4 linked regions of the Homo sapiens genome follow. The protein of the gene in region 3 interacts with the protein of the main gene of each other region in a pairwise test. Each region holds a gene or a part of one and is shown on either strand. Other genes may lie near its edges. The genes, in order: SYT3, GSN, MRM1 and AQP3.

Evidence for each region.
Region 1: the proteins of MRM1 (region 3) and SYT3 interact in binary tests that used the Homo sapiens proteins (3 or more experiments, as listed by UniProt).
Region 2: the proteins of MRM1 (region 3) and GSN interact in binary tests that used the Homo sapiens proteins (3 or more experiments, as listed by UniProt).
Region 4: the proteins of MRM1 (region 3) and AQP3 interact in binary tests that used the Homo sapiens proteins (3 or more experiments, as listed by UniProt).

What each region holds. Positions count from the first base shown.
Region 1 is NC_000019.10:50,622,398-50,630,258, forward strand, and holds part of SYT3 (synaptotagmin-3), read right to left. Parts: intron 7,775-7,861; coding exon 7,387-7,774; intron 7,116-7,386; coding exon 6,897-7,115; intron 3,621-6,896; coding exon 3,500-3,620; intron 3,168-3,499; coding exon 2,996-3,167; intron 2,898-2,995; coding exon 2,765-2,897; intron 359-2,764; coding exon 293-358; 3' UTR 290-292; intron 85-289; 3' UTR 1-84. UniProt on the Homo sapiens protein: Ca(2+) sensor involved in Ca(2+)-dependent exocytosis of secretory vesicles through Ca(2+) and phospholipid binding to the C2 domain.
Region 2 is NC_000009.12:121,319,468-121,327,328, reverse strand, and holds part of GSN (gelsolin), read right to left. Parts: intron 6,062-7,861; coding exon 5,928-6,061; intron 2,776-5,927; coding exon 2,685-2,775; intron 818-2,684; coding exon 647-817; intron 22-646; coding exon 1-21. UniProt on the Homo sapiens protein: Calcium-regulated, actin-modulating protein that binds to the plus (or barbed) ends of actin monomers or filaments, preventing monomer exchange (end-blocking or capping).
Region 3 is NC_000017.11:36,604,062-36,609,804, reverse strand, and holds the end of MRM1 (rRNA methyltransferase 1, mitochondrial precursor), read right to left. Parts: intron 2,136-5,743; coding exon 2,003-2,135; intron 1,907-2,002; coding exon 1,787-1,906; intron 1,563-1,786; coding exon 1,390-1,562; 3' UTR 841-1,389; downstream 1-840. UniProt on the Homo sapiens protein: S-adenosyl-L-methionine-dependent 2'-O-ribose methyltransferase that catalyzes the formation of 2'-O-methylguanosine at position 1145 (Gm1145) in the 16S mitochondrial large subunit ribosomal RNA (mtLSU rRNA), a universally conserved modification in the peptidyl transferase domain of the mtLSU rRNA.
Region 4 is NC_000009.12:33,444,384-33,452,622, reverse strand, and holds the start of AQP3 (aquaporin-3), read left to right. Parts: upstream 1-5,029; 5' UTR 5,030-5,092; coding exon 5,093-5,200; intron 5,201-8,239. UniProt on the Homo sapiens protein: Aquaglyceroporins form homotetrameric transmembrane channels, with each monomer independently mediating glycerol and water transport across the plasma membrane along their osmotic gradient. Could also be permeable to urea.

The sequences.
Region 1 (7,861 bases), on a different chromosome or scaffold from region 3:
GCTTCAAGGAGATGAATTCACGGTCCGGGCAGGAAAGGATGGGGTCCTGAGGGAGCCTGGTCCGATCCCGGGCCTAGGCCAGACCTGCACGATGGAGCAGGAAAGGAGGGGTCAGCAATGGCAGAGAACTGCACCACGACCTCCTGTAGCTCCATCACCACCCAGAGATCCAGGAGTCCCAGGCGCAGCCCCTCCTCCCTCAGACCCAGGAGTCCAGGCCCCCAGCCCCTCCTCCCTCAGACGCAGGCATCTCCACCCCCAGCCCCTTCCCTGTGGCCAGGCTGCTTACCCCTCACTCGGAGTTCTCTTTCTCTGATAGTCCTTTGCTGCCTTTTGTGAAGCTGGTCACAGTCTTTTCCTAAAGGAGAAAGTGCAGAAGGTTCGGGAGTGAGAGACAGAGAGTTGAAACAGATGCTAATCATCAACAGGAGAAGACGTCAATCCTGTTTCATTATTTAGGATGCGCTTTCTCACTTGGCCCTGAAGTGACGGACAGATGGTATTACAATTCCATTCTACAGATGGGGAAATGGAGGCACAAAAAAGAGGAGTCTCTGCAAATGCGAGGAGAGATGAGGCTGTAGGGATGAGTGGGGCAAGTCCTGCATGGTATCAGAGGGGCTGAGACTCTGTCCTGGGGCCACTGGGGAGCCACGGGAGGGCTGTGAGCAAGGAAGGGGAGGGGAAGCTCTGGGTGTAGAAGGATCTTCTGGGGCCACAGGGAGCATGAGGGGCTGAAATTCATGGGCAGTGTCAGGACTCGGCCTAGACTCTGTGCCACCAGCGTTGCCCAACATGGGCAGTGGCTCACCAGAAACTCCTGGGAAGGTTGGTGGGATGAATTAATGAACGGATGAATGAGTGAATGACAGGAGGAGGGAGTAGCCTCCATCCTATCCACCTTAGTAGAGTCCCCGTCTTTTCCAATCTCAAATCTGAGTTCTGTGCCCAGGTGTCGGGTCCCTCATGATCACTGGAAAAAAGCCCACAGCAGGGCCAGACTAAATCTGGTGATGTGGTGAAAGTTTCACCCAGTACTAAATGTAAATGTGTGCCCCAAATGCAGCAATCAAGATAAAGAATATTTCATGCAATATTGGCCAGGCGCGGTGGCTCACGCCTATAATCCCAGCACTTTGGGAGCCCAAGGTGGGTGGATCACTTGAGGTGGGAAGTTGAGACCAGCCTGGACAACATGGCAAAACCCTGTCTCTACAAAAAAAAAAAAAAAAAAAAAAAAAAAAAAAAAAAAAAATTAGCAGGGTGAGGTGGCACACGCCTGTAGTCCCAGCTACTTGGGAGGCTGAAGCAGGAGAATCACTTGTACTCAGGGAGGGGGAGGTTGCAGTGAGCCAAGACTGCAACACTGCACTCCAGCCTGGGTGACAGAGTGAGACTCTGTCTCAATAATAACAATAATAATAATAATGCAAGATTTTAAAAAAAATCAAAATTAATGCAAAAAAATCAATGATGAAGAAAATATCAAATTTTTAAAAAAGGCCAGTCTCATGCCACATCAGACTGCTATTTCAAAGGAAATGTATGTGCCCTCATATACTTGCTTTTTTTTTTTTTTTAAGGAGAGGGGTTCCTGCTCCATTGCCCAGGCTGGAGTGTGGTGGTGAGATCATAGCTCACTGCAGTAACAAACTCCTGGGCTCAAGAGATCCTCCTGCCTCAGCCTCCTGAGTAGCAGGGACTATAAGCACACACTACCATGCCTAGCTAATTCCTAAATTATTTTTGTAGAGACAGGCTCTCCCCATGTTGCTCAGGCTAGTCTTAAACTCCCAGGCTCAAGTGATCCACCCACCTTGGCCTCCCAAGGCCTGTGCTGGGATTTCAGGCATGAGCCACTGTGCCCTGCCCAAGTTTTTATATATTTTTTCTAAATTTATTTTTCCTGGAATGCTAAACTAGTTGAAAAATACTGAAAAATGAAGTAAGTGTGTTGAAATTCACAACATTATTTTACATTTAAATCTTTCATATATACCCTAGACAGAATTTGAATAATTTGACTTTCTTGGCTTTTAATGGAGGCAAATCTGCCAATAACACTTTCTAAAGCTACTTCTTTGCTCCTCTTGTTTTCTATTGAGAGAATGGCCATGTTTGATTATTTCTCCTGATCAAGCGATAATCTTAAATGACTTTTTTTTTTTTTTTTGAGACAGAGTCTTGCTCTGTCGCCCAGGCTGGAGTGCAATGGCGCCACCTCAGCTCACCGCAACCTCTGCCTCCCAGGTTCAAGCGATTCTCCTGCCTCAGCCTCCCAAGTAGCTGGGATTACAGGCGTGCGCCACCACGCCCAGCTAATTTTGTATTTTTAGTAGAGACAGGGTTTCTCCATGTTGGTCAGGCTGGTCTCAAACTCCTGACCTCAGGTGATCCACCCTCCTCGGCCTCCCAAAGTGCTGGGATTACAGGCGTGAGCCACCACGCCCAGCCCCCTCTATTTTCAACTTAGCCTCATGGGTAACAACAGCAGCGACCACCTACAGAACGTTTAACTCAGCACATCTCACCTCTATCCTAACAGAAGATGCTATCAACAGTCCCATTTCCTAGTGGGTAAATTGAGGCACAGAGCGCTTGGGTAACTGGCTCTAAGCCGCACAGCTAAAGTTGGCACAGCAGGGATTGAAACCTAGGACGCCTGGCTCTGCGACTCACGAACATGCAGGGCGTTCGTTGCATGGATGAAGGGGCCGAGGGTGCACGGGTGCTTGTCAGGGGTCGGTGTGGGACCCCTACTCACCTCCACTAGCTGATGCCAGTGCTCCACGGGCTTGCGGGGATTGGCCAGCATCTCTGCCCAGTGCTCGCGGCCGTGCGGGTCGGCAGCGTCGGGGCCCACACGGCACACGCCGATCACCTCGTTGTGCCCGATGCTGGGGGTTGGGGTCAGTGAGGACCGTGGAGGGTGGTGGGAGGGCCTGTCCCCACCCCAGCCCTCCTGCCTGACCCCCGCCCGGGCCGCGCCCCTCACCAGTCGTAGTCTACCACGGCGATGCTGAGCCCCACGTTCTCCACGCTCTCGGGGGCCACGTCGAACACCAGCGCCTCATTATAGGTGGGGTTCAGCGTGTTCTTCTTGATGGAGGTTTTCCGCTTCTTCAGACGCCGCCCCTCGCTGATCAGGGAGGCCTTCACGTAGGGGTCTGGGAACAGCAATGAAGTAAGGAACAGAGACTCACTCCCTCAGACCTAGGGGTCCAGGACCCCAGGCCCCGAGCCCCTCCTCCCTCAGACCCAGAGGTCCGGGGCCCCAGGCCCCCAGTCCCTCCTTCCTCAGGCCCAAGAGTCCAGACCCCAGGTCCTCCTCTCTCCGACCCAGGAGTCCAGGCCCCTGGCCCCTCCTCCCTCAGACCCAGGAGTCCAGATCCCCAGCTCCTCCTCCCTCAGACCCAGGAGTCCAGGCCCCTGGCCCCTCCTCCCTCAGACCCAGGAGTCCAGGCCCCCAGCCCTCCTCCCTCAGACCCAGGACCCTCACCTGAGAAGCCAGTGAGGTCCATCGCTTTGAGGTTAGAGGCTTTGATGATGGTCACGGTGAGGCGCCCGGCCGTGGGGAGGTAGCAGAGTGAGAAGTTGAGCTCCCCAAGATCTGCTTTTTCCTGCAGTTGGGGAAAAGGTCAGCGATATCTTGCCTCAGCCCCTCTTCAACTCTCCCTGATTTTCTCTCCGGTCGGAGCCTCCTGCTTTACACCCTGACATCCAGGGCTCAGGCTTCCCATCCACTTAGCAATCTGACTCTTGGGACAAGGCCCAGTAATTCCCTGGCCACAGCTGCCCATGACCATCAAAGCTTATTTGTTCTGCAGGAAAGATTGGAAGAAGCATGAGTGAGGGGAGAGAGAGAGGAGGGGAGAGACAGAGAAGGTGAGAGAGAGAGAAAACACAAAGAGAAATAGACTGAGACAGAAGCCAAAACACGGAGGGATACAGCTGGAAAGACAGACCCACAGGCAAAGTTCTCAAGTCAGAGGGACAGAGGCCCAGAGACAGACACAGAGAGAGACCCAGAGAGAGGGAGACAGAGACCCAGAAAGAGAGGGAGACAGAGACCCAGAGAGAGAGGGGGACAGAGGCCCAGAGAGAGAGGGGGGGGGACAGAGACCCAGAGAGGAGGACAGAGACCCAGAGAGAGAGGAGGACAGAAGCCCAGAGAGAGAGGAGGACAGAGGCCCAGAAAGAGAGGGGGACAGAGACCCAGAGAGAGGAGGACAGACCCAGAGAGAGAAAGGGGCAGAGACCCAGACAGAGAGGGGGACAGAGACCCAGAGACAGAGAGATAGAGACCCAGAGAGAGACAGAAGCCCAGAGACAGGGGGTACAGAGACCCAGAGAGAGAAAGAGAGAGAGATATATATAGAGAGAGACTCAGAGAGAGACAGAGGCCCAGAGAGAGAGAGGGACAGAGACAGTGGGTTGGGGGTGCATAAAGACCCAGAGAGAGTGATAGTTACCTAGAATTAGAGTGGAGGGGCAGAGACCAGAGAGCGAGAGAGAAACCTAGACTCAGATACCCTACTCCCTGCACCAAGAGAAAGAGAGAGAGAGAGAGAGAGGCTGACTCAGACAGAGTGGGACAAAGACCAAGCAGACACACACACATAAACCAGCCTGAGAGAGGGCAGGAGATTCATCAACCTCCACCGAAGTTTCCAGGACTGCCCCCAACCCTGACACACAGGCTGGAGCCACGCTGGAGCTAGCTGGGAGCTTTGACCAACCTGGCCTAGCCCTGCGGCCTCCCAACTGTGCCCAGGACTCCCTACTCATTCCCCTCAGGGCATCTGCCCAGGCTGTCCCTCTGCCAGAACACTCTTCCCTCTATCTCTCCTTGGCCTTTGAGCCTCCCCTCGTTCCACAAGCTCCCAGATCCCCCACAGCCCTGCAGAGGCTCCTCCTGTGCCTCCCCATAACCCTGGCCCCTGACACAAGGCCCGACCATCTAGACCTGGAGCTGCCGAGGGCTGCCTGGGGTCCCCAGGCCCTGCTCCTGAAAAAAACAGTGGTTGAAGAAATGAATGAAGGCTGGGTGCAGTGGCTGATGCCTGTAATCCCAGCACTTTGGGAGGCTGAGGTGGGCGGTTAACCTGAGCTCAGGAGTTCGAGACCAGCCTGGCCAGCATGGCGAAACCCTGTCTCTACTAAAAATACAAAAATTAGCCGGGCATGGTGGCAGGTGCCTGTAATCCCAGCTACTTGGGTGACTGAAGCATGAGAATCACAATCACTTGAACCCGGGAGGTGGAGGTTGCAGTGAGCTGAGATTGCGCCACTGTACTCCAGCCTGGGTGACAGAGAGAGACTCTGTCTCAAAAAAAAAAAAAAAAAAATGAGAGAGAGAGAATGTATGAATCAATGGAATGAGTGAGGAAAACCTCAAGTGATGATGATGGAGAGAGAAAATGAGAAGGGTGAGCACAAGAATTAGGCCAGCATGGATACAGAGAGAAGGCCCTGGCATGGGGCTGCCATGGGTGATGACTGGGAGTAGGAGCTGGTGGAATACACAGGGGCCCTGGGACCTTGGAACTGGGCACTTCAATCTCAAAGGCTGGGCTTGGGGGCCAAGCAGGCAGGCTGGGGAGGGCCCCATGAAGAAGCCTACCCAAAGAGCTACCCAAAAAGCCTACCTGGCACCCAGCTCAACTGGACATCTGTCATTGAACAGATGGGGAAACTGAGGCTCAGAAAAGGAAAGAACCTTGAGGAGGTCTAGTCCTCTCCTGATATGAAGGCCGCCCTCCCCACAACACACACACAGCTACCCCAGATTGGCAGAGAACTGGAATGTTGGATAATCCACAAATTAGGTTGGAGCGGGGGCGCTGTAGAGTTGAGGATCTGAGATTTGGTGGGGCAGAAGAGCTCAGGACACACACACAAGAAGTACCTAAGAATGGGGCTGGGGAGGGATTGGAGGTACAGGGAGAATGAGATACCAGAGGGCAGGGGTCGCAAGGAATAAGGAAGAAGCCATTGGGCCCTATAATCTGGATGCTGGGAGAACTGAGGAGTGTCTGCATATTGGGGATCCCAGGATGGCTGAGGCCTGGGGGATCAAGCTATCAGCATTCGGGCAGGGACCATGAAAAAACAGAGGGTCAGAATATGAAAGAGTTCCAATGTCAGGGGTTGGGAAAATTCAGAAGTTCAGAGATTAGAGAGGGATTGGGGCTTTCAGAAGTTCAGAGATTAGAGAGGGACTGGGGCTTCCAGAAGTCCAGTCATTGGAAAGTCAGGAAGTTAGGAAGGTAAGAAGTCTGGGGTGAGAGGGGAGAAGTCATGGGGTTGAGGCAGGAAGGCATCCTATGGCAAAGCGGGTGAGAGGTTGGAAAATCGGATCCAGACCTGATGCTAACATTTGGCGATGTTGAGGAGAGGAATGGTGTCCACTGTATCATTATCTGTTCTTTTTTTTTTTTTTTTGAGACGGAGTTTCGCTCTTGTTGCCTACGCTGGAGTGCAATGGCATGATCTCTGCTCACCACAACCTCCACTTCCTGGTGCAAGCGATTCTCCTGCCTCATCCTCCTAAGTAGCTGGGATTACAGGCATGTGCCACCATGCCCGGCTAATTTTTGTATTTTTAGTAGAGATGGGGTTTCTCCATGTTGGCCAGGCTGGTCTCGAACTCCCAACCTCAAGTGATCTGCCCACCTGGCCTCCCAAAGTGCTGGGATTATAGGCATGAGCTACCGCGCCCGGCTCATTCTCTATTCTTGCCTGTAAGTTTGCAGTCTTCCCCAGTGTGATACATTTTAACAGAAAAATGTGGGGACAAGAAGTGAGGAAGTTATGAACTCTGAGGGCAGGGGGCTTGCAACCCGGGGGGTCTCAGGGCCCTGGGAAGGGGAAGGTCAGGGGAGAGGGCCACTGACCGAGCCGCCCTCCACGATGTCCCTCCAGAGCGGGCGGTCAGGGGGCTGCTCGGCCAGCTCCAGGAGGTTGTCCAGCACCACCTGGCCGATGAGGTCGTGCCGCGAGAAGCGGTCAAAGTCATAGACGCTGAAGTGCAGTTTGCGTTGGGCCAGCTCGGCCAGGGGCACCGAGAATTGAAACGTCTCATTGAAGACGGGGTTCAGGGTCTTCCTGTGCACCTGGTGGTGGTGGGCGACAGGAGACAGACACCGTGCCCATAAGCCCCTCCTCCACAGGATCCAGGAGTCCAGCCCCCAGCCCCTCCTCCCTCAGACCCAGGAGTCCAGGCCCCCAGCCCCTCCTCCCTCAGACCCGGGAGTCCAGGCCCCCAGCCCCTCCTCCCTCAGACCCGGGAGTCCAGGCCCCCAGCCCCTCCTCCCTCAGACCCGGGAGTCCAGAGCCCTAGCTCCCTCTCTGTGGGAACCCGGTGTCCAGCCCGCTGCTCCGGACCTTGGTCTGAAACTTTTTCTTGCGGTCAGGCAGCAGGTAGATCTTGACGTAGGGGTCTGAGAAGCCGTTGGAGTCCTTGGCAGGGAGGTCCAGGGCCTGCAGGATCCTCACCACCAGCTGGTCCGAGCCATAGAGGTACCGCAGGGCGAAGCTGATACGGCCACAGGGTGCCCCTGTGCCTGCCTCTCCAGAGCCTGGGCCCCCACCGCTCCGCCGGCCACCAGGGCCAGTCCCCTGGTACAGCTCTGGCTTAATCTGCCCAATGAGTTTGGCTTTTTCCTCGCCTCCAGGCAGGGGTAAGGGCAGGGCAGGTGGCCGCTCCTCACTGCTGGGGTCCGGCTGGGAGGTCAGAGTCTGCTGGGTGAGGGGTCGGGGCAGGGCTGGGTACCTGTAGGGGGTTGGGGGGAGACCAAGGTGAGGTCAGTGGCTCTGATCTTCGACTGCATGCAGAGACCTGGGAGACTCCTCCCTGCCT
Region 2 (7,861 bases), on a different chromosome or scaffold from region 3:
TGCACCAGCCTTAGGCAATACCTGGGAGGGTACAGCTTGGTTAATCAGGAACCAGACAAAAAGCCCTCAGCCCCCTCCTCACAGCCCAGGAGACCCCGCAGCAGGACTAGCTCTCAGGTGGGGACTTGGAGGAACACAGCCCATCAGAGCTGAGGGCACAGACTTTGGACCCTGATGGCCTTGGTTGACTCCCATGAGTCACTAATGCACTGTGACTAGCCAACATGATTCTAAAAATCAGGGCTGCATTAACAGAAGTTGAATGCCCAGAACAAAGGAGGTGAGAGTCCCATTCCCCTCTAGGCTGCTCAGACCATCCTGGGAATCAAGTCCAGATCTGTGCCTTCCTCCGTGAAAGGGATAGTAGGCAACTGGAACGTAATCAGGAATGGCATGCTGATTGTACAGAATGGTAGGTAGTGAGCTGTCCACTGTGCAAAGTGTGCAAGGGACACTGGGTATCCTTGAAACAGGGGGGAGTCTAAGACAGACAACCCTGTGGCCACGGCAGGAAAATACAAAAAGCTGCTTCTTACCCCGTCATTCACCATCCCCTGCCCCCGTTCCTGTGCCTGGAGATCTGGTCATTGAGCTGGGAGGTTTCAGGGAGGCCAATCCCTTCTGTGTTCCAGGACCTGGAAATTACCTCAACAGCCCGGGTGGCTCCAGCGCTGTTGGCGCGGACCTGGAAGAGGCGGGTGCTGGCAGGGGCTGTCTGCCCGCCCTCGCGGGAGGTGCCGCCCTTGTAGATGATCATGGGCTTCCCACCAAACAGGCTCATGAGGTGGGCGGGCTCCTTGCCTTGGACCACACGGCTCTGGCAGGGAGACAGGAGAGCAAGTCAGGGACCTTGGGGGCAGGCTTCAGTCCTTCTATGTCGCACTGGGCCCATCCCTCCAGACGAAGCCATCATGCTTGTGTCTGTGTGTGGCATGGAATGTGACCCGACAACACACAGGCAGGGACACCAGAATTCCAGGAAGGGTGGAGACAGTGCTATTGTCTGAGGTCCCCAGGGCACTGCTGCTGGGCTGCTCTCCATCTCCATGACGACATGCCTTCCTGATCCTCAGCCTGGTCCAAGAACCAGGAGAGCCTGTGTTTGCAAATGTTCCCTTAAATAGAAGCACAGGGATTGCTGGTGGACATTCTTCCAGAATGCTGACGTCAGGCCTGGGCATGACTGCTGGTGGAGTGGTAAGAACAGAGCATTCTAGATCCAGAAAACCCCCTCCTGCAGAGCCAGTGCACCCCAGATGCGGGCAGCAGTCAGGGGCTTGGTGGTGGGAGTGAGGCAGGGAAGATGTACACCCTCACATCTGCTCCTGCCCTGTGTGCGGCACCTTACCGTGGCCCCGGCTAACTATGTCCAGAAGAAAACCTCACATGTACGTCAGGCATATGGCAGTCGCTTCCCACCACGACCCACCACCGCTGAGTTAGGGCTTAGACCCCAACTCCACCCTGATGGTGAGAACTTGGGCACGTGTCTCAACCTCTTGAGTTCCTCCTCTGAAAAATGCAGCCAAGGATGCTACTCCCAAGGCTGTTGTCAGGATGCACTGAGCTAAGATGGTCATCATCTCATTTAGTGCCCAGCACCCAGTCTATCATAGTCAAAGGTCAGGGCACGAACCCCCGATGCCAATCTAGAGCCCTGCCCACTCCCACCGTAGGACGGAGGAAGCACAGTTGTTGTCCGCTTCCCCTATATTTCCACAAACCAGCTCTGCTGCCCTCCAGCGCCTGGCCAGAGTGACTTTTTAAACCAGAAATCCCTACACCTCAGACTTATCATTCAGCAACTTCCTGTTGTTCTCAGCATCAAGGTCAACATCGTCACTATGGCCTCTGGTGGTCTGGCCCCTCTGAGCACCTCTCTAGCCTCAAATCATGGCATTTTCCCCTTGCTTTAACACCCAATGCCCCCTCCCACCTCAGGGCCTTTGCATGTGTACCACCCTTTACCCACAATGTGCTTTCCTTCACTCTGCCTGGGCAACTCCTACACGTGCATCAGGTCCCAGTTGAACAGTCCCCTCCTGGGACAGGGGTGGGCTTTTCTAATCCAATAGGATCCTACCTAGGATTTACCTCCTTGTACTTAACACATATGTATAAGGGGGCACTTCTTATATGGCAGGCATGATTCTAAATGCTTACAAATGTTAACTCTTAATCCTCACAGCAATCTTGTGGGATGGTACTGTTATTACCCCTATTTTGAGGACACAGAGGCACAGAGAGGCTAAGTGACTTGCCCAACGTTGCCCAGAGGTGAGGACAGGATTCAAACCCAAGCATGCTGGTTCCACATCCGTGCTCAGCCACATGGCCTCTCCCATGTCTCTCTCCCAAGGTCTTGTCAATTTCACTCACTGCATCTGTCATAGCCATTGGTGTGCCTGTGTGTTGAATGTCTACTACCACCCAAGACAGCAAAGTCCACTAGGGCAGGGACAGTGTGTCTGTGTGTCCATGGCTACAGATGCAGTGTGGAACACATGGAAGCCCTAAATAAATACCTGTTCCATGGATGGATGGATGGATGGATGGATGGATGGATGGATGGATGGACAGACAGACAGATGGACAAACGAATGGATGGATGAGAGTCAGACAGATGAGTGAAGAGAAGGACAAGGCTCAGGCTGCAGCCCAGAGAGGCGGTGGGCTGGGCTCACCTGGACAGGGGTACCTCCCAGCTCCTCATCCAGCTGAGCAGTCAGGATGGCAGATGCAGCGACCTCATCCTGGGTAGACTGGGCACCCTGCCTGGAAGGGGAAGTGAGATTCAGCATCAGGGTGCACACAGAGCCCTGAGCCTCTCCCTTGCCCTGAGTCTGAGAAACCTACACATCTCCCTGTTACCAGTAATGAAACAGATAGAGAGGGAAGGGGACTCTTTCAGAACAACGAGAGCCAGGAACCACACCAACACTTCCACTCTCAGCCTAGCATCTTGCCCGCTTACAGAGATCTTAGTGCAACGCATGGATTTCCTTATGCTAAATGTGTCCCACAGGAGACTGGCTGGGTCATCCCATGCTGAACAGCCACAGAGAAGATGCTCTGAGACTCAAATCTGAGATGCAGAAAAGTGGCCAGGACATTTCTCTGGGCGGAAAAGCAGGTCGCAGAATAGCAAGTGTTACGAGAGCCTATTTGTGGGAAAAGATGTCAGTGATTAAGCCTCCCATGAACACGTGCAGAGAGGTCTGCACAGATGTTCACCAAAAAGGTCCATGGTGATTGCTCTTAGAGGGAAGATTTAGGGGGATTTTGCCTTTCTATCCCACCTCTTTGCATATTGTCTAAGTTTTCCATAACCAACATATGTCGTCGTATAAGCAAACAAAATCTGACCTATTAATGCGCTGATGCAGCTAATTTTTAAAACAGTCTTCTCACACATTTTGTACCAGGTGAATGTGTTATCTAGTCAAAAAAAAAATTAAGCTGTTTTTAAATGTCTGGGGTTGTCAAATTGAGAGACATTCTACAAAATAACTGACTAGTACCCTTTAAAAGTGTTAAGGGCATGAAAAAAAGGAAAGACCGGGCAACTGCCATAGATTCAGAGACTTTGGAGACATGATGAGTAAATGCCATGTGGGATCCTGGGTTAGATCCTAGATCAGGAAAAGAACAGTAGTGGGGGCCGGGCACGATGGCTCATGCCTGTCATCCCAGCACTTTGGGAGGCCAAGGCAGGCAGATCAGTTGAGGTCAGGAGTTCGAAACCAGCCTGCCCAACATGGTGAAACTCCGTCTCTACTAAAAATACAAAAATTAGTTGGGTGTGTTGGCGCACACCTGTAGTCCCAGATACTCAGGAGGCTGAGGCAGGAGAATTGCTTGAACCTGGGAGGCAGAGGTTGCAGTGAGCCGAGATCATGCCACTGCACTCCAGCCTGGCGACAGAGCAAGACTCTGTCTAAAAAAAAAAAAAAAAAACGGTAATGGGAAAACTGAGGAAATTTAGGTAAAGCCTATAGATTAGTAAGTAGTATTGTGTCAATGTTCACTTCCTGGCTTTGTTAATTGTGCTATGGTTATGTAAGGGTTATGTAAGATGTGAACATAGGTGAATATTCCATTGGGTAATGGATATATGAGAACTGTCTGTACTATTTTTGCAACTTTTCAGCAAGTGTCTAATATTATTTCAAAATAAGTTTAAAAAAAGAAGGAATCCAGCTTGGCGTGGTGGCTCATGCCTATAATCCCAACACTTTGGGAGGCTGGGGCAGGCAGATCGCTTAGAGGAGTTCGAGACCAGCCTGGGCAACATGGCAAAGCCCCATCCATACTAAAGTATAAAAAGTAGCCGGGTGTGGTGGTGAGTAGTGGCAAGTAGTCCCAGCTACTCAGGAGGCTGAGGCACGATAATTGCTTGAGCCCCGGGGGGCAGAGGTTGTGGTGAGCAGAGATCGTACCACTGCACTACAGCCTGGCCAACAGAGCAAGACCCTGTCTCAAAAAAAAAAAAAAATCCAACAGTCAATAATCAGACAAAAAGTTTTAGACTGTATAGTAAGAGAAATACAAGTTAAAAATACACTGAGACACCATTTTATAAACCATAAGATTGGCAAACGCCCAAAAGTTTGACCACACAATCCACGAGTGTGACTATAGGGAACCAGGGACTCTCACAGGTTGCTTGGTGGGAATGTAAAATGCTACGAACACTATCGAGGGAAATTGGGGGCTATCTACCAAAATGACAAGTGCAGTTACTCTTTGACCCAGCAATCTGACTTCTGGGAACTTACTCTAGAGGCATGTCTCTGCATGTTCAAAGTGATGTTTGTTTAAGGTTACTAATCACAGCAATGTTTGTAATAGAGAAAGACTGGAATCAACCCAAGTATGCATCATCAAGGAATTTGTTAAATAAACTATAGTACAGCCACCCAAAGGACTATTATGCAACTGTAAAAAAGAATGAGAAAGCTCTCTGTCTCTATGTACTGACATTATTGATCTCTAGGAAGAATGGAGTCAGAAAAGCAAGGTGCAGGGCAATATACAAAGTATGCTACCTTTTGTGTAAGGAAGGGAGGGACCAGGCTATAAATTATTTGCATATGTATTTTTTTTCACGAAGAGTTACTGGAAGGATATGCAAGAGAGTAAAGCAGTTACCCAAGAAGGGGTGGGGTCTGGAGAATGGGGTAGAGAGGGACAGGGGTGGGAATAAGATTTCTCAATAAATACCTTTATATTCTGTTTTGATTTTTGAACCATGTAAATGTATTCTCTGTTTTAAAATAATTTTGGGGCTGGGTGTGGTGGCTCACTCCTGTAACCCCAGCACTTTGGGAGGCTGAGGCAGATGGATCATCTGAGGTCAGGAGTTCGAGACCAGCCTGGTCAACATAGTGAAACCCCGTCTTTACTAAAAATACAAAAAATTAGCCAGGCATGGTGGTGGGTGCCTGTAATCCCAGCTACTAGAGAGGCTGAGGCAGGAGAATTGCTTGAACTTGGGAGGCAGAGGTTGCAGTGAGCGAGACCGCACCACTGCACTCCAGCCTAGGCAACAAGAGAAAAACTCTGTCTCAAAATAAATAAATAAATAAATAAATAAACAAATATAAATTTAAAAAAATTTTGGCTTGAAAAATATGTGTGGGAGGATAAACCCTAGTGTGCCTAGTACTTGTCATGGATTTGTGGGAGATGTTCTGTTTGTTTCTCCACATTCACTATATCCTACAATAGATGTATAATCATTTGGTAAGAAGAGTTTCAAAGTTGTTTGGAGAAATAAGCAAATGGTGTTGCCCTGTGGACAAAAGCCTCTCCCAGCAGGGAGTGGTGGTCCCACCTCAGGCCCTCACACCCTCAGTTTGTCTTCAGCCCTGCTCAGGGCCCAGCCAGTACCCCCACGACACACACCAATGGCCCCAGAACCTCACCAGTTATAGATTATCTGCCCCTGGCGGCCACCATGGCGGTAGTTGTACAGAATGATGTAGCTGTCGCCTCCATAGAACTGTCCATATGTGGCAGGGTCCACGGGCACCTTGTTGGAACCTTCGATTCTCCAGATCTGCAGGAGCAAAGCTGGAGTCAGATGCTGTGCAGCACCCCCACCCCCCAGCTCAGGCAAGCCAGGAAACCGCAGTGTGGTAGGTTGTGGTTAGGCCATGGGATGAACTTTTAATCACTTGGGCTCGGACTGGAGTTAAATGGTTTGCCCAACTCACAGAGCCACTAGAAGGCAGGGCTGGGACTCTGGGTCAGGGTTCCTGCCTGGGCTCCTCATACCATGCCCTGCCCCAGCCCGTCTGTCCTTCGCTGAGGATCGTCAAGGCAGCTCCAAAGGAATGCAGTACAGTGAGGGGAGGAGCCAGACACAGACCCCAAATCAGGCCCCTCATCCCCTTCCGGGCCATGAGACCTCAGACAACTGGCTTAACCACTCTTAGCCTCAGTTTTCCCATCTGAAAAATGGGGATAATCATAGTACCTACCTCAAAGTACTGTGAGGCTCAAACGAGATTACTCGTGAAAGTCTAGCACAGGGCCCGGCACAAAGGGACTGCTCTGTAGGTGGCAGCTGCTCTTATTGTCATAATTATTATTATTATCTTACTAATATCACCATTACCTCTATTGTTACTGAGCTGCCTGGATTCTTTCTTTTTTTCTTTTTTTTTTTTTTGTTTTTTGAGACGAGGTTTCACTCTTGTTGCCCAGGCTAGAATGCAATGACGCAATCTCGGCTCACTGCAACATCTGCCTCCCGGGTTCAATCAATTTTTCTGTCTCAGCCTCCCGAGTAGCTGGGATTACAGGTGCCTGCCACCATGGCCAGCTAAGTTTTGTATTTTTAGTAGAGACGGGGTTTCACCATGTTGGCCAGGCTGGTCTCGAACTCCTGACCTCAGGTGATCCACCCGCCTCGGCCACCCAAAGTGCTGGGATTACAGGCGTGAGCCACTGTGCTGGGCCTGCCAGGAATTTCATAGGTCACCTGCAGAGGCAGGGACACCACGAGGCAACCTCAGTGTGACCCCTGCTGGCAGGTCTCCGCAGCGTTCTGGTGACACTGCTTTTTCCAAGTGGTCACGAGGCCCGGCAGCGCCACCTGGTGGAGCTATGGAGACACGGAGTCGTCCAAGTCCTGGGAAACAGAATCCTAGAATCTCTGGATTTTGAACATTCTTGAAGGTGATGGAGTGGGATGAAACCCCACTTTACAAGTGAGAAAGTGAAGCTCAAAGAGGTTATGTAACTTGCCCAAAGTCTCACAGTCAGGCTGCCAGGGGTCTTACCACACCGCCCCACCCGAAATATTTTCATTGCATTCTCCCTAGCCACTGAAGCAACAAATGAATGCTAGCACCAAACCAAAAACAATAATATATAAAAATGAACACTTTGTTATTCCTATCATTAGGAACGGAGTCAAGTTTGCCTGAGGCGGATTCTACCTCCTAAACACCTCTGAACCCCACACCCCTCTTCCCCTTCTCCACTGTGACCTTCTTAGTCTCAAGGTCATCATCTTTCCCCTACAGTATTAGAACAAGCTCCTTATAAGCTCTCTACCTTCATTTTCCTGCCTCCAATCCATTTTCTTAGTTTTCTTTTTATTTTTCTTTTATTTATTTTTTAACTGATTTTTTTCTTCTAATGATATCCTGGAGTCATATTCCAACCCATTTTCACAGTGAGTTTCTAAAGCAGGTGGCCGGGCGCAGTGGCTCATGCCTGTAATTCCAACACTTTGGGGGGCCGAGGCAGGAGGATTGCTTGAGCCCAGGAGTTTGAAATTAGCCCGGGCAACATAGCGAGACCCTGTCTCTATTAAAAAAAAAAAAAAAGATAAAGCATAAATCTGAGC
Region 3 (5,743 bases):
CATGTGAGTTCCTATTGCCCTCCATATTCTCCCAACAATCCAGGAAGGTAGGATTATTCCCCTTTCGCCCAGGAGGGCACCGAGGCCCAGGTGGGTAAGGAGCGCCCCCCCAAGGTCACATAGCAGTCAGGATTGCAAGTTCGGGGTTGCTATCCTCCAAAGCCATGCTCCAGGAGGGGAGATTTTTGTCTCTTAGAAGCCATCTGGCAACGTCTGGAGACATTTCTGGTTTCATAATGAGAGGTCATGCTACAGGCATCTAGTGCGTATAGGTCGGGGATTCTGCTAAACATCCTACAGTGCACAGGATGGCTCTCACAACAAAAAATTATCTGGCCCAAAATGTCAAGGGTGTGGAATTTGAGTCCACCTGCCCTAGTGGTGATTCTCAGCCTTGGCTGCACATTAGACCAATGGTGGCGCTTTCGAAAGCCGGATGCCAGGTGGCGCCACACCCATCATGTCAGACTCTCTGGTGTCAGTGTTGGGTTTTTTAAAGCATGCCAGGTGGTTCCAATGTGCCACCAGGACAGAAACACTTCTATGCTCCTCACACTGCTGGCTCCTGCTGCTTTCCTGGGACCCGAGGGGAGGAGTGCCAAATCTGTCTCGGTTGTACAATCAACGGCAAGCCTGCTCCCAGTTCCTCCCCTTGAAGGGAACTGACTCAGTCACCCGTGGGGGGCCCCCGTGGGGTGGGAGGTGTTTGCTAATTTCCCGTCGCCTCTCATGGGGCTGCAGCCAGGAGTCTCCCCGCAAGGAGGCTGTGGAAGCTGCCTGAAGACTGGACCGAAGAGCGAGGCTGCCACCTAACGGAGGAATTGGCCAGAATCTCCCACGTGCTGAGTGATGTTTTATTTGAGCCTCACAACAACCCTGTGAGGTAGGTGCGGAGTCCCGCGGCACAGAAAGATGAGGCCTGCGCTCAAGGCCCCAGGGCGGGGCCGTGTGTGGGCCTGAGGTGCGCACTGTCTACTCCACATCAGGGCCCCGCCCTCCACCCCCCACATTCTCATACACACATTTGCCACAGGCAATGACTGGTTCAAGAGGAACGGGTCCCCTGGGCTGGGCTGCCTGCCTCTCTGCAGATGTCTAAACTTTCCCTCAACTTCCAGGCAGGGCCTGGGAACAGATTCCCTCCATGCTAGGCCATCATGGCTTCCCATGGAAATTAACAAATCACCATGTCCTACTACAGGTCCAACATCACAACAGGAAACAGCTTCCTCTGGTGTCCACCGCAGTCCCCTTCCCCCCCCCCCAGACTGTGGTCAATAAACATGGGCCTGGTGCACACTCAGGCAGAGGCTCCCCGCACACTGGAGCCGGCGGAGGCAGGTGCGGCCGTCCCTGACTCCAGCACATGAACACTGTGGACAGTCCACGTCAGCCCTCATTTTGCCTCTCTTTCTCTGGGCCTGAAGACAGCCCTGGGTGCTGAGCCATGCTGAGCCCTTCAGACCTGGCTGAGGGTTCTTGGGGGTCTTGGAGAAGCTGCCTTCTCTCCCCCTCTGTGGGGAAACCCTTCCTCTGGCTGCAAATGGAGTGAAGAAGAATTCCTGCACAGACACAAGGACAAGGGAAGAGAGGACGGAGGAGAAGGATGATGTTTAGAGACCTAGACATTCAGGCAGCCCCTCATCTCATCAACGGGATGTAATTTCCCCATTTTGTACATAAAGCAACTGAGGCACACAAACAGCCAGCAAATGGGATTAGAGGGCATCAAATCCCACCTGCGTGATTAGAGGGATAGAGGAAAGGGAAAGGGGAGTAGACTCACCTGCAGCCACAGAGACGTTCAAGGACTCAAGTCCAGGAGGCAGCTGGCGCCGGGGCAGGATGGTGAGGAGAAGCTGGCAGGAGGCCTGCACCTCCTGGGATAGACCTGAGCCCTCATTCCCTGCAGGGCGTGGGGCTGAGGGTTAGGGTTGCCCAGCTGGACACCCAGTTGCTCGGGAAATGTAATCTGGGCACAAACGCAGGGACATCCACCTACCCAGCACAAGGAGAGTAGGCCGTTCCCAGAGGAACTCCAAGCAACTCATGATGGGGATCTCGGAGGACTGGGGATCCTCTGTGCTTGGGCAGCCCACCGTGCCGGCCACGAGCCAGCCCTGCTGGGCTTTGGTCTGAAAGGGGGAAGAAGATATGTTCTAATTCTTTTTTTATTTTAATTTTGAGATAGGGTCTTACTCTCGCTCAGGCTGGAGTGCAGTGGCACGATCACAGCTCACCGCAGCCTCAACCGCCTGGGTTCTGGTGATCCTCCCACCTCAGCCTCCCAAGTAGCTGGGACTACAGGCACTCGCCACCCCACCCGGCTAGTTTTTGCATTTTTTTTTTTGAGATGAGGTTTTGCCATGTTGCCCTGGTTGGTCTGGAACTCCTGGCTTCAAGCGATCCTCCCACCTTGGCCTCCCAGAGTGCTAGGATTACAAGCGTCAGCCACCATGCCTGCCTCTCCTATTCTAATTCATCAAATCTTCATCAGAGGCTGTATGCAGTGGCTCAAGCCTGTAATTCCAGCACTTTGGGAGGCTGAAGCAGGCAGATTACCTGAGGTCAGGAGTTCAAAACTAGCCTGGCCCAGGCACGGTGGCTCACGCCTGTAATCCCCAGCACTTTGGGAGGCCAAGGCAGGGGGATCACCTGAGGTTGGGAGTTCGAGACCAGTCTGAACAACATGGAGAAACCCCGTCTCTACTAAAAATACAAAATTAGCCGGGCATGGTGGTGCATGCCTGTAATCCCAGCTACTCAGGAGGCTGAGGCAGGAGAATCGCTTGAACTCGGGAGGCAGAGGCTGCAGTCAACCGAGATTGCGCCATTGTACTCCAGCCTGGGCAGCAAGAGTGAAACTCCATCTCAAATTAAAAAAAAAAACAAAAAACCAGGCGCAGTAGCTCACGCCTGTAATCCCAGCACTTTGGGAGGCCGAGGCGGGCGGATCACCTGAGGTCAGGAGTTTGAGACCACCCTGGCTAACATGGTGAAACTCCGTCTCTACTAAAAACACACAAAAAATTAGCTGGGTGTGGTGGCACATGCCTGTAGTCCCAGCTATTTGGGAGTCTGAGGGAGGAGAATCGCTTGAACCCGGGAGGCGGAGGTTGCAGTGAGCTGAGAGCACACCACTGCCTCCAGCCTGGGCAACAAAGCGAGACTCCACTCTGTCTCAAAAAAAAAAAAAAGACTAGCCTGAGCATCATGGTGAAACTCTGTCTCTACTAAAAATACAAAAATCAGCCTGTAATCCCAGCTACTCAGGAGACACGAGGATCTCTTGAGACCAGGAGGCAGACATTGCAGCGAGCTAAGATTGCGCCACTGCACTCCTGCTTGGGTGACAGAGTGAGACCCCCATCTCAAAAAAAAAAAAAAAAATTATCCATCAGAGCCCTGGCCAAGGAAGAGCCCAGCCTTGCCCATACATTCATTTATCTGCTGATCCAGTCAATTAGTCAATAGTTATTAAGCACCTAGCATGGGCTCTGTTCTAGGCACTGAGGACAGGGCACTGAACAAAACAAAACAGACCAAAATCCCAGCCTTGTGGAAGGGCAGGTGGGGATGGACTCACTGAGGTGACATTTGAGTGCAGACCTGAAGGAGAAGGAGGAGCACCGTGCAGACATCTGGGGCAAGAACATTCTAGGCAGAGAGATCAGCAAGCACAGAGGCAGGTGCCTCCCTGGCATGTTTGAGAACAGTAAGGTGGCCAGTGGGAAGAGAGGCGTCAAGACAGAAGAAGGAACAAGAGCCACATGAGGTATGGTCTCCAGGGCTACTGGAAGGACTCTGCCTTTGAATCTGAGCGGTACAGAGGCTTTGAAAGGTTTTGAGCAGAGAAGTAACATGGTATGACTTCAACAGAATCACTCTGCCTGCTGTGCTGAGAGCCAAGAGCAGAAGAAAGGAGGCCAGGTGGGAAGTTTCTGCAATAACGGTCAACAGATGATGGTGACTTGCTTGGGCCAGAGTGGTAGCAGTGGAAACAGGCAGAAATGGTGATAATACGGAAATAACTTTAGTTAAGGATGATGCCAAGGTTTTTGACCTAAACAACCAAAGGGATGGAGTTGCTCCAGAAGGAACAAGCGCTCAGTTTTAGAAATGTTAGGTTTGAAATGCCCGCCTGACAGCAAAACAACAACAACAATAACAACAACTGTGCAGTAGGCAACTAGATGAGTGAATCTGGAATTCAGAACCAAGGTCCAGGCTGGAGTATACACTTGGGCGGGAATTTGAATTCAGATAGTATTTAAAGCCATGAGACTAGATGAGACCAACAAGAAATGAACATATACAGAAAAGAGATCCAGGACCAGGTGAGGTGGCTCACGCCTGTAATCCCAGCATTTTGGGAGGCTAAGGCAGGAGGACTTCTTGAAGCCAGGAGTTTGAGACCAGCCTGGGCAACAAAGTGAGACCTCATCTCTACAAAAAAAAAAAGAAAAAGAAAAAAGAAAGAAAAAAATTAGGTGAGATGGTGTGCACCTGTATCTCCAACTACTCAGGAGGCTGAGGTGGGAGGATGGCTTGAGCCCAGGAATTCGGAGGCTATACTGAGCTGTGATTGTGCCACTGGACTCCAGGCTGGGCAACACAGCAAGACCCCATCTCTCTCTCTCTCTCTCTCTCTTTTTTTTTTTTTTGAGATAGAGTTTCACTCTTATTGCCCAGGCTGGAGTGCAACGCTGTGATCTCGGCTCACTGCAACCTCCGCCTCCTGGATTCAAGCAACTCTTCTGCCTCAGCCTCCCGAGCAGCTGGGATTACAAGTGCCCGCCACCATGCCCAGGTAATTTTTGTATTTTTAGTAGAGACAGGGTTTCACCATTTTGGCCAGGTTGGTCTCGAACTCCTGACCTCAGGTGATCCACCTGCCTCAGCCTCCCAAAGTTCTAGGATTATAGGCGTGAGCCACCGTGCCTGGCCAAGACCCCATCTCTTAACAACCGCTCCCGGCCAAGACCTCATCTCTTTTTTTTTTTTGACACGTCACTCTGTCACTCAGGCTGGAGTGCAGTGGCACAATCTCGGCTCACTACCACCTCCACCTCCCGGGTTCAAGCGATTCTCCTACCTCCGCCTCCCGAGTAGCTGGGACTACAGGCACGAACCACCACACCCAGCTAATTTTTTGTATTTTTAGTAGAGATGGTGTTTCACCGTGTTAGCCAGGATGGTCTTGATCTCCTGACCTCATGATCTGCCTGCCTCAGCCTCCCAAAGTGCTGGGATTACATGCGTGAGCCATTGTGCCCAGCTGACCCCATCTCTTAACAACAACAACAAAAGAGATCCGAGGACTAAAATCTGGGAAATGCTAATGCTCGGAAGTCAGGGGGTTGAGGAAGAACCACTAAAAATGTCTCTCAGAGAGGACATGGTGAAGCAGAAGGAAAGCAGGTATAGTGTTTCAAGGAGGAAGGAGTGGTCAACTGTGCCAGCTGCTGCAGATGGGTCAAGTCAGAAAAGAATTGAGAACAGACCCTGGAATGCAGCAACATGGAGGCCACTGGTGACCTTGATGAAGCCTTTGATTCAGTGTGAGAGGAAGAGCTGACTGGTGTGAGATCAAGAGCGTGAGAGGGGAATGTTTGCTTGCATGCTGAAGAGAGTGTAAGAGAAAAGTGGATGCTGCAGGAAGAGGAGGAAAATTGCTACAGCAGTGTCTCTGAGTACGCAGGAAGGGATGGGGCCCCAGCACAGGCCCCTGCTTGGGGCACCT
Region 4 (8,239 bases), on a different chromosome or scaffold from region 3:
ATGGACATGAATGAGTTTGGTGAGAGTTCACGGAGTCATGGTCCTGAAGGTTGGGCCCTGATGGAGGGGGTGGGGAACAAGGACATTGAGACCCAGCCCTTGTTCTGCTAGCTAAACCATGTGCCTTGGCATGCAGCTGCATTGACTGGAGGGGGTTGCAAAGATACTCTATGGTGAGCTGCAGTCCAGGATTATAGATAGACACATACATGCATGCATACATGGGTGAGTACAGGTAGCTGCATATGTATAAATAAATGCTGCTCAACGTATATAAGACAGACAAATCCATAATTGTGTGTGTAACTAGCTACTTCCTGGTGCAGCCCACGAGAAAACCCATGTGAGGTGAATGCAGACAGATGTGTGTGCAGGTTGCTTTTTTGTTTATTTGCTTTTTGAGACGGAGTCTGTCTCTGTCGCCCAGGCTGGAGTGCAGTGGTGCGATCTCTGCTCACTGCAACCTCAGCCTCCTGGGCTCAAGCGATTCTCTGGCCTCAGCCTCCCGAGTAGCTGGGATTACAGGTGCCTACCACCATGCCCGGCTAATTTTTTTTTGGCGAGGGGATAGAATTTCGCTCTTGTTGCCCAGGCTGGAGTGCAATGGCACGATCTCGACTCACTGCAAGCTCTGCCTCCCGAGTTCAAGCGATTCTCCTGCCTCAGCCTCCCAAGTAGCTGGGACTACAGGCGCACACCACCACACCTGGCTAATTTTTGTATTTTTAGTAGAGATGGGATTTATCCATGTTGGCCAGGCTGGTCTCGAACTCCTGACCTCAGGTGATCCATCTGCCTTGGCCTCCCAAAGTGCTGGGATTATAGGAGCAAGCCATCGTACCCGGCCTAATTTTTGTGTTTTTAGTGGAGACAGGGTTTTACCATGTTGGCCAGGCTGGTCTTGAACTCCTGAGCTAAAATGATCTGCCTGGCTTGGCCTCCCAAAATTCTGGGATTACAGGCATGAGCCACTGTGCCCGGCTCCAGGCCAGGTTCCTTTTTTTTTTTTTTTTTTTTTTTTTTGTGATGGAGTCTCGCTCTGTTGCCCAGGCAAGAGTGCAGTGGCGCCATCTTGGCTCACTGCAAGCTCTGCCTCCCAGGTTCATGCCATTCTCCTGCCTCAGCCTCCCGAGTAGCTGGGACTACAGGCGCCCACCACCACACCCAGCTAATTTTTTTTTATTTTATTTTTAGTAGAGATGGGGTTTCACCTTATTGGCCAGGATGGTCTCGATCTGCTGACCTTGTGATCCGCCCACCTCAGCCTCCCAAAGAGCTGAGATTGTAGGCGCGAGCCACCATGCCCGGCCTCCAGGTTGCTTTTATAAGGGAAGAGGAAAAGAAATAAAAAATAGAAGTGTGTGTAGTGTCTGCTGGTGAAAGAGCTTCCCCTGTTTTTCTCCCCTGCTCTGGTTCCCAGGCTAGATTTGGATGCCAGCAGACCCAGGATGGGACAGGGTGACAATGGGGTGTTGTGGGCTGGGTTTCCCTATTTTCTTTCGGTGTTGAGGAGTCCCTTGCCAGTTTCTGCCCTGTGCTGCCTTTGCAGCTCCACTTGAGGCAGGGATGGGCTGGATGCATATTATAGGGTGGGAGGAAAAGGGGGCAGCATGGCAGGGGTGCTCTACCACTCCCATAGCCTGTGATCTGGGCCCTGGCACCAGGAGTCTATGGTTCTGTCTTGAGTCACAGGCTGGCAGTGGGGCCAGAGGGCAGGTACTCAGTGATGGCTCCCTGATTCACCACGGGGCCTCCCAGCCTATAGAGGCCTGGAGGGTAGGGTGCATCTTTCTGGGTCAAGGGTCATTAGAGTCCTCATGTGGGGGTTCTATATATGTGTGAGCCCATGGCGAGGCTCTCATGTGAATGGGATCCCTGATCATGGGAGCAGAGCTCAGTGTCTATAGGCAAGTGTGTGACTGCAAACCACAGGGTGTGTGTGTGTGTCTGTGTGTTTGTGTGTGTGTATGCGCAAGCACCTGCATGTATGTGAATCTACTTCATGTGTATGCTAAACCCATCTCTTTGGGCATGAACCACCTCTGGGACTGGGAGCCCTTATTTCCTTTCTTTTCTTTTCTTTTTTAACATGCCTATCTAGGCCAGGTACGGTGAATCATGCCTGTAATCCCAGCACTTTGGGAGGCCGAGACGGGTGGATCACCTGAGGTCAGGAGTTCGAGACCAGCCTGGCCAACGTGGTGAAACCCCGTCTCTACTAAAAAAAACAAAAAACAAAAAACAAAAAAATTGGCTGGACATGGTGGTGCATGCCTGTAATCCCAGCTACTCGGGAAGCTGAAGCAGGAGAATCGCTTGAACCCAGGTGGGGTGATCTTGGCTCACTGCAACCTCTGCCTCCTGGGTTCAAGTGATCCTCCTGTCTCAGCCTCCCGAGTAGCTGGGATTACAGGCATGTGGCAGAGGTGGTTGATGCCCAAAGAGATGGGTTTAGCAATACTCATAATCCTACAATCCAAGCACTCTAGGAGGCCAAGGTGGGCAAATTGCTTGAGCTCGGGAGTTCCAGACCAGCCTGGCCAACATGGCGAAACCCCTTCTCTACAAACAATACAAAAATTAGCCGGGCATCGTGATGCATGCCTGTAGTCCCAGCTATTTGAGAGGCTGAGGTGGGAGGATTGTTTGATCCCATGAGCTAGAGGCTGGAGTGAGTCATCATCCATGTTTTTAAGAGCTTGTTTAGCTTCTTCTGCTACCTCTCCTGACACAACCTGTCCACTTGAAGGGTCCATGCCTATCTGTCCTGAAATGTCAATGGTCCTGTCACCTAACATAGTTTGACTGTAGGTCCCAGTGGCCCCTGGGGCTTTCTTGGTGCTGATCACATTTCTGATCAAGGACGACAGGACTAACCCTTCTCTCTTTTGGTCCCTCTGGGAGAAGAACCTCTGCACTAGCCCTGCTCGCTTCTCAATGAACCGTGGGAGCCCTTTTTTTTTTTTTTTTTTTTGAGATGGAGTTTGGCTCTTGTTGCCCAGGCTGGAGTGCAATGGCATGATCTCAGGTCACTGCAACTTCCGCCTCCTGGGTTCAAGTGATTCTCCTGCCTCAGCCTCCCGAACAGCTGAGATTACAGGCACCCGCCATCACGCCCGGCTAATTTTTGGTATTTTTAGTAGAGACAGGGTTTCACCATGTTGGTCAGTGTGGTCTTGAACTCCTGACCTCAGGTGATCTGCCCGCCTCGGCCTCCCAAAGTGCTGGGATTATAGGCGTGAGCCACCACGCCCAGCCGGGGGCCCTTATTTCTCATATTCGTCCCTCAAGGGACAAGTCCTCAGGGTCATTAGCCCACCTGGATTAAGTCCCTCTGGAAAATGATTTCTTTGATCTCCTCTGGCAATGCTGCCATAGAAGCTCAGCCTAAGGGCATGTTGTTTGCTCCCAGGCCACCAGATGTTTCCTTGTTATTAAAAGCAGCATAGAGGGCAAGGTTGCACTTCGGGAGGCCGAGGTGGGAGGATCGTTTAAAGCCAGGAGTTTGAGACTAACCTGGGCAACATAGCAAGACCTCATTTTTACAACAGATTTTTAAAAATTAGCTGAGTGTCATGGTGGCACATAGTCCCTATAGTCCCATCCATTCTGGAGGCTGAGGTGGGAGGATCACTTGGGCCCAGGAGTTCGAGGCTACAGTGAGCTGTGATTGCACCACAGCCTGGGTGATGGAGCAAGACCCTACTCTTTAAAAAGAGAGAGAGGGCAAGGTTGTCCCATGATCCCCCTCAGATAGGGCTGACTCCCCCATAATTAAGTTTGCTTAAAGAGGCAGACTTGCTGGGCTCAGTGGCTCACGCCTGTAATCCCAGCACTTTGGGAGGCTGAGGCGGGTGGATAACTTGTGGTCAGGAGTTCGAAATCAGCCTGGTCAACATGGTGAATCCCCATCTCCACTAAAAAAACAAAAATTAGCTGGGCATGGTGGTGTGCACCTGTAATCCCAGCTAATCGGGAGGCTGAAGCAGGAGAATCACTTGAACCTGGGAGGTGGAGGTTGCAGGGAGCCGAGATCACGCCATTGCACTCCACCTAGGCGACAGAGAGAGACTCCGTCTAAAAAAAAAAAAGAGACAGACTCTTCCTTGGCTGGGGGTAAGTCAGATGGGAGAGGAGAGGGTTAAAAACAGCTGGGACTCAGCCTGCTGGCAAACATGTGGCATGTGGCATGTCGGGGCAACTGCAGCTCAGCCTCTGGAGCCATGTGAGCAATGCACGCAGGTACACGTGTGACAAGCTAGGTCACCTAGCCATGTTCAACAGGCATGTGCACAGCCACGAGGAATGCCCAGCCGTACAATTAGGCACACAGGACATCCGCCATGTGTAGACACAGCTGTGGACATAGCTGGCCAGGACATGCGACACACGACGTGCTCATAGCACAGGGAGAAGGGCCCATGAAGTCTGGTTGGAACTCAGCACGTGTGTCTGTGTGCCCACCTGAGTCTGGACTGCTGCCCCTCTGACACTAGCTGTCCCCTTGAAGGGTCGGTGCCTTATCTGTCCTGACAGAAGAGACAGTGTTGCTTCTCACTTGGGGCTCGCAGCCTCCTCCTCCTGCCTCGAACTGAGGATCTGTTGGGTCCAGTCATCCTGGAGAGATGCGGCCAGTTTCTTTCTGACAGGTCTCCTCCTGCCCGCAAGGAAGTGGGGTGATCACAGGGCGCAGGTGGTCTCTATGACAGCTGCATCCTCTCCAGCCATGGCCCTGAACCCTGCCTATAATCCCACCATTGGCTCTCAGATCTGCCTAAGCCTCTCAGCCCCCTTGACGTCCCCTCCCTTAAGCGCCCTCCGAAGGCCACCCGTCCCTCAAAGCTCCTCACACTCCATGCCCGCAGCTCCCTCCACCCGGCGTCCGCACCAGCCTCCCAGCCGAGGTGGGGCGGGGGCGAGGGGGCGCGCACTCCTCGGCGCTCCGGGACTGCAGGGCGGGGCTGCAGGGCGGGCGGGGCCCGTGTCTCCAGCGCTCCTATAAAGGGAGCCACCAGCGCTGGAGGCCGCTGCTCGCTGCGCCACCGCCTCCCGCCACCCCTGCCCGCCCGACAGCGCCGCCGCCTGCCCCGCCATGGGTCGACAGAAGGAGCTGGTGTCCCGCTGCGGGGAGATGCTCCACATCCGCTACCGGCTGCTCCGACAGGCGCTGGCCGAGTGCCTGGGGACCCTCATCCTGGTGGTGAGTGGAGGGAGCCGGGGAAGCCCTTCTCTCTCCAGCCCTTGCACTCCCCAAACTCTCACTTCCCCGAAGGGGCTGTGTTTTCCAAGGTAGCCTGGACCCACCTCCCCAGCTGTGACCCCCACGCTTAACCGCGGAGGATCAAGCTGACTTCCAAAGTCCTCTTCCCCACGGTTCTAACCCCCTCTCTGACAGCTCCGACTCTTGCCAGAATGACAGCTGTTACTCCCCAGTGATAGTGCCGATCGTTTACCCTCCCACAAGTGACTCAGCCAACAGGCTGGGGGCAGCGGTCACGCTTGCAGTCTGGGACAGCCAGCCACTTCCCCTGCCTCCCACACCCCTCCAGATTCCCAGAATCCCAGCCCCCAGATGTAGGGGAGGGGGCGGAGGCAAATGAGCCATTATTAGGTTATTTGGGTCCTGGGTGTCTGGCCTCTAATGAATAATTAAGCCTCAAAAAGTCCAAAGGTTGAAGTGAGTGAGGACAGTTTGCACGAGTGGGGGCAGAGGGTGCAGGCCACATGGGCTGCGAACAGCGAAGTGGGAAGGGAGGCAGATTCTGACGGTAGAAGGGTGGGAGGAAGCTAGGCCCAGGCACAGAGGACGCGTGTCTAAAGTTGCTCACCTGGTGCTCAGCGACTCCCAGGCCCTGTCTGTTATCCAGACAGATGCTGTCAGCGTCTGTGCAGAAGACGACAAGCATTCTGGTTACTCCCTGGCCTCTTGGTTACTCTGTGGGTTCTCTGAGTGAGCATTTCCCTGCCTGAGTTACTCCTCAGTCCTAGTTACTCCTTGGTCACACCAGTTTCACCCTGGTTTTGTTCTGAGTGACTCTGTTTGCACTTCTTAGGTCTGGCAGACCCACCAGTTATGTTCTATTTCCTGTCCCAGTTACTCTGATTTTTCAGCCGCTCATGTGGTTACACCTGTTTTCCTCTGTGTTCAGTTGCTACATTGCAGTGAGTGGGTTACTCCGTTCCTGCCCCAGCCCTGGGTAGTACAGACCAGCTGGCCCACTGTGGACTAGGAAGCCTAACTAAGGGCAAGTAGGGATCCCCAAATGGTTGAGGATCAGGATCTATGGGCAGAGGAGGGCTGAAACCCACTTCTGGCTTCCAAGAATAGGAAGTGGGGAAGCCACAGGGGGCATTTTATCCACAGCCTCCCATAAGATTAGTCGTCCTATCAGCCAGCCCTAGCCCCTCTCTCCTGTGCCAAGAAGGCAATAGGAGGTGGCCTTTATCACTCTCCTGCCTCGGAGCCCTCACTCCTATCGGAGTCCTGAGTCCAGCCACCTGTTTTAGAGCAGCCAGGCTAGGGGAGGATGATGTCTTCTATTTTCCTAGAGGGGCCTCCTCATTCCCTCCCAAGTCTCAGTTCACTCTCTCACAAAGGAGCCGTTAGTCCTCCCACTGAGCCCCAGGATCATCAGGCTTATCCCAGACCACAAAAGAAGAGTGTTAAATTTTAGGGGAAGGGTTGCAGACTCAGATGGATGTGAGGTATTGGATATCAGTGAGAAGCAGAACTTCAAGGACTGCATGAACTGGAGGGGCAGGCCTGGGGATCCCTTTGTAGTGGGTGAGTGCCTGCCTGCCTACCTGCGTGTTGGGAGCCTAGGCCTGCAGTGGCAGAATCAGGGTTGGCTTTGGGGTGAGGAAAGCCCCTTTCTCTGAGATACCTGGTGTGAGGGCAGGGGGCGGTGCTGGCCGAGAACTCAGGGCAGGGGTTGGGGGAGGAAGAGGAAGATTAGCCCCAAGGTGGTGGAACTGGCTCTGACAGCTCCTCCCTCCAAGGCGTCCTGGGATGGAGCCAGGTCTGAGCCTTTGGCAGGCAAGGAGCTGCTGCCAGGGCCTCCCAAGCAGGGCAGGGCGCCTCAGACCCTCACGTGCCTGTCTCCCACCACCCCTCCTCACACATACACCTGCAATCTCTGATCTTTGCTCTCACCTGCCTGCACACCTTTGCCCCATGTCATTGCCGCTGGCTTCTCCGTTATCTCTTGGTCTTTCTGGGATGATAATCAAAATGCTTAACTATCCAGTACAACAGGCACTGACCCGTCAGAATAAACAAGGTCTGTAGCACAGGTCCTGGAAACTGCCTGCTCTGTGGGCATAAAACCTTTAGTTATGGGCAGGTGGGAGAGGAGACCAGGGCAAGGCATTGGAGCAGCTTTGAGGGACACTCAGGGGGCTCAGGGCAACAATGCTTTACAGCTGCTGCAGAAGTATTTTCAGGCTTGAACAAGGGGAACAGACATAGTACGTTCTTTTTCTTTTTTAAATAGAGACAAAGTCTCACTATGTTGCCCAGGCTGTTCTCAAACTCCTGGGTTCAAGATCCTCCCATCTCAGCCTCCAAAGTGCTGGGATTACAGGTGTGAGCCACCACAGCTGGCTCCAGTATGTTCTATATTTGTAGAACACCAGGGCTCTTAGTCTCTTTTAGTTCCCCCATTTTTGGCAGAAAGTTTAGAACCGATCTCCCCATTTCTACAGCCCTGGGTCCCGGGCTGGGGATAGTGAGAGGAGCCACACAGATCCCTGTCTGTAGGACCTCCAAATCTGAGTGGGGAATCTGGACCCCTGAGAGCAGAGAGGTCATGGGTGGAGAGAGGAGACGCTGGGACAGGGACAGGTAAAGGAAGGGGAGGTTGTTGAGGGGGACATGGTGAAGGCTGGGGCTCTGGCATCCTGGACTCAGGAGAAGTGGATTCAACCTCACTTCTGGTCTCCTCCCTATTTATTTATGCCGCCCATTGCCACCACTACCACCACCACATGAGCTTTTCTTTTCAACTCTTTTTTTTTTTTTTTTGAGATGGAGTCCCGCTCTGTCGCCCAGGCTGAAGTGCAGTGGCGCAATCTTGGCTCACTGCAACATCTGCCTCCCATTTTCAAGTGATTCTCCTGCCTCAGCCTCCCGAGTAGCTGGGATTACAGGCACCTGCCACCACGCCTGGCTAATTTTTGTACTTTTAGTAGAGATGGGGTTTCACTATGTTGGCCAGGCTGGTCTCAAACTCCTGACCTC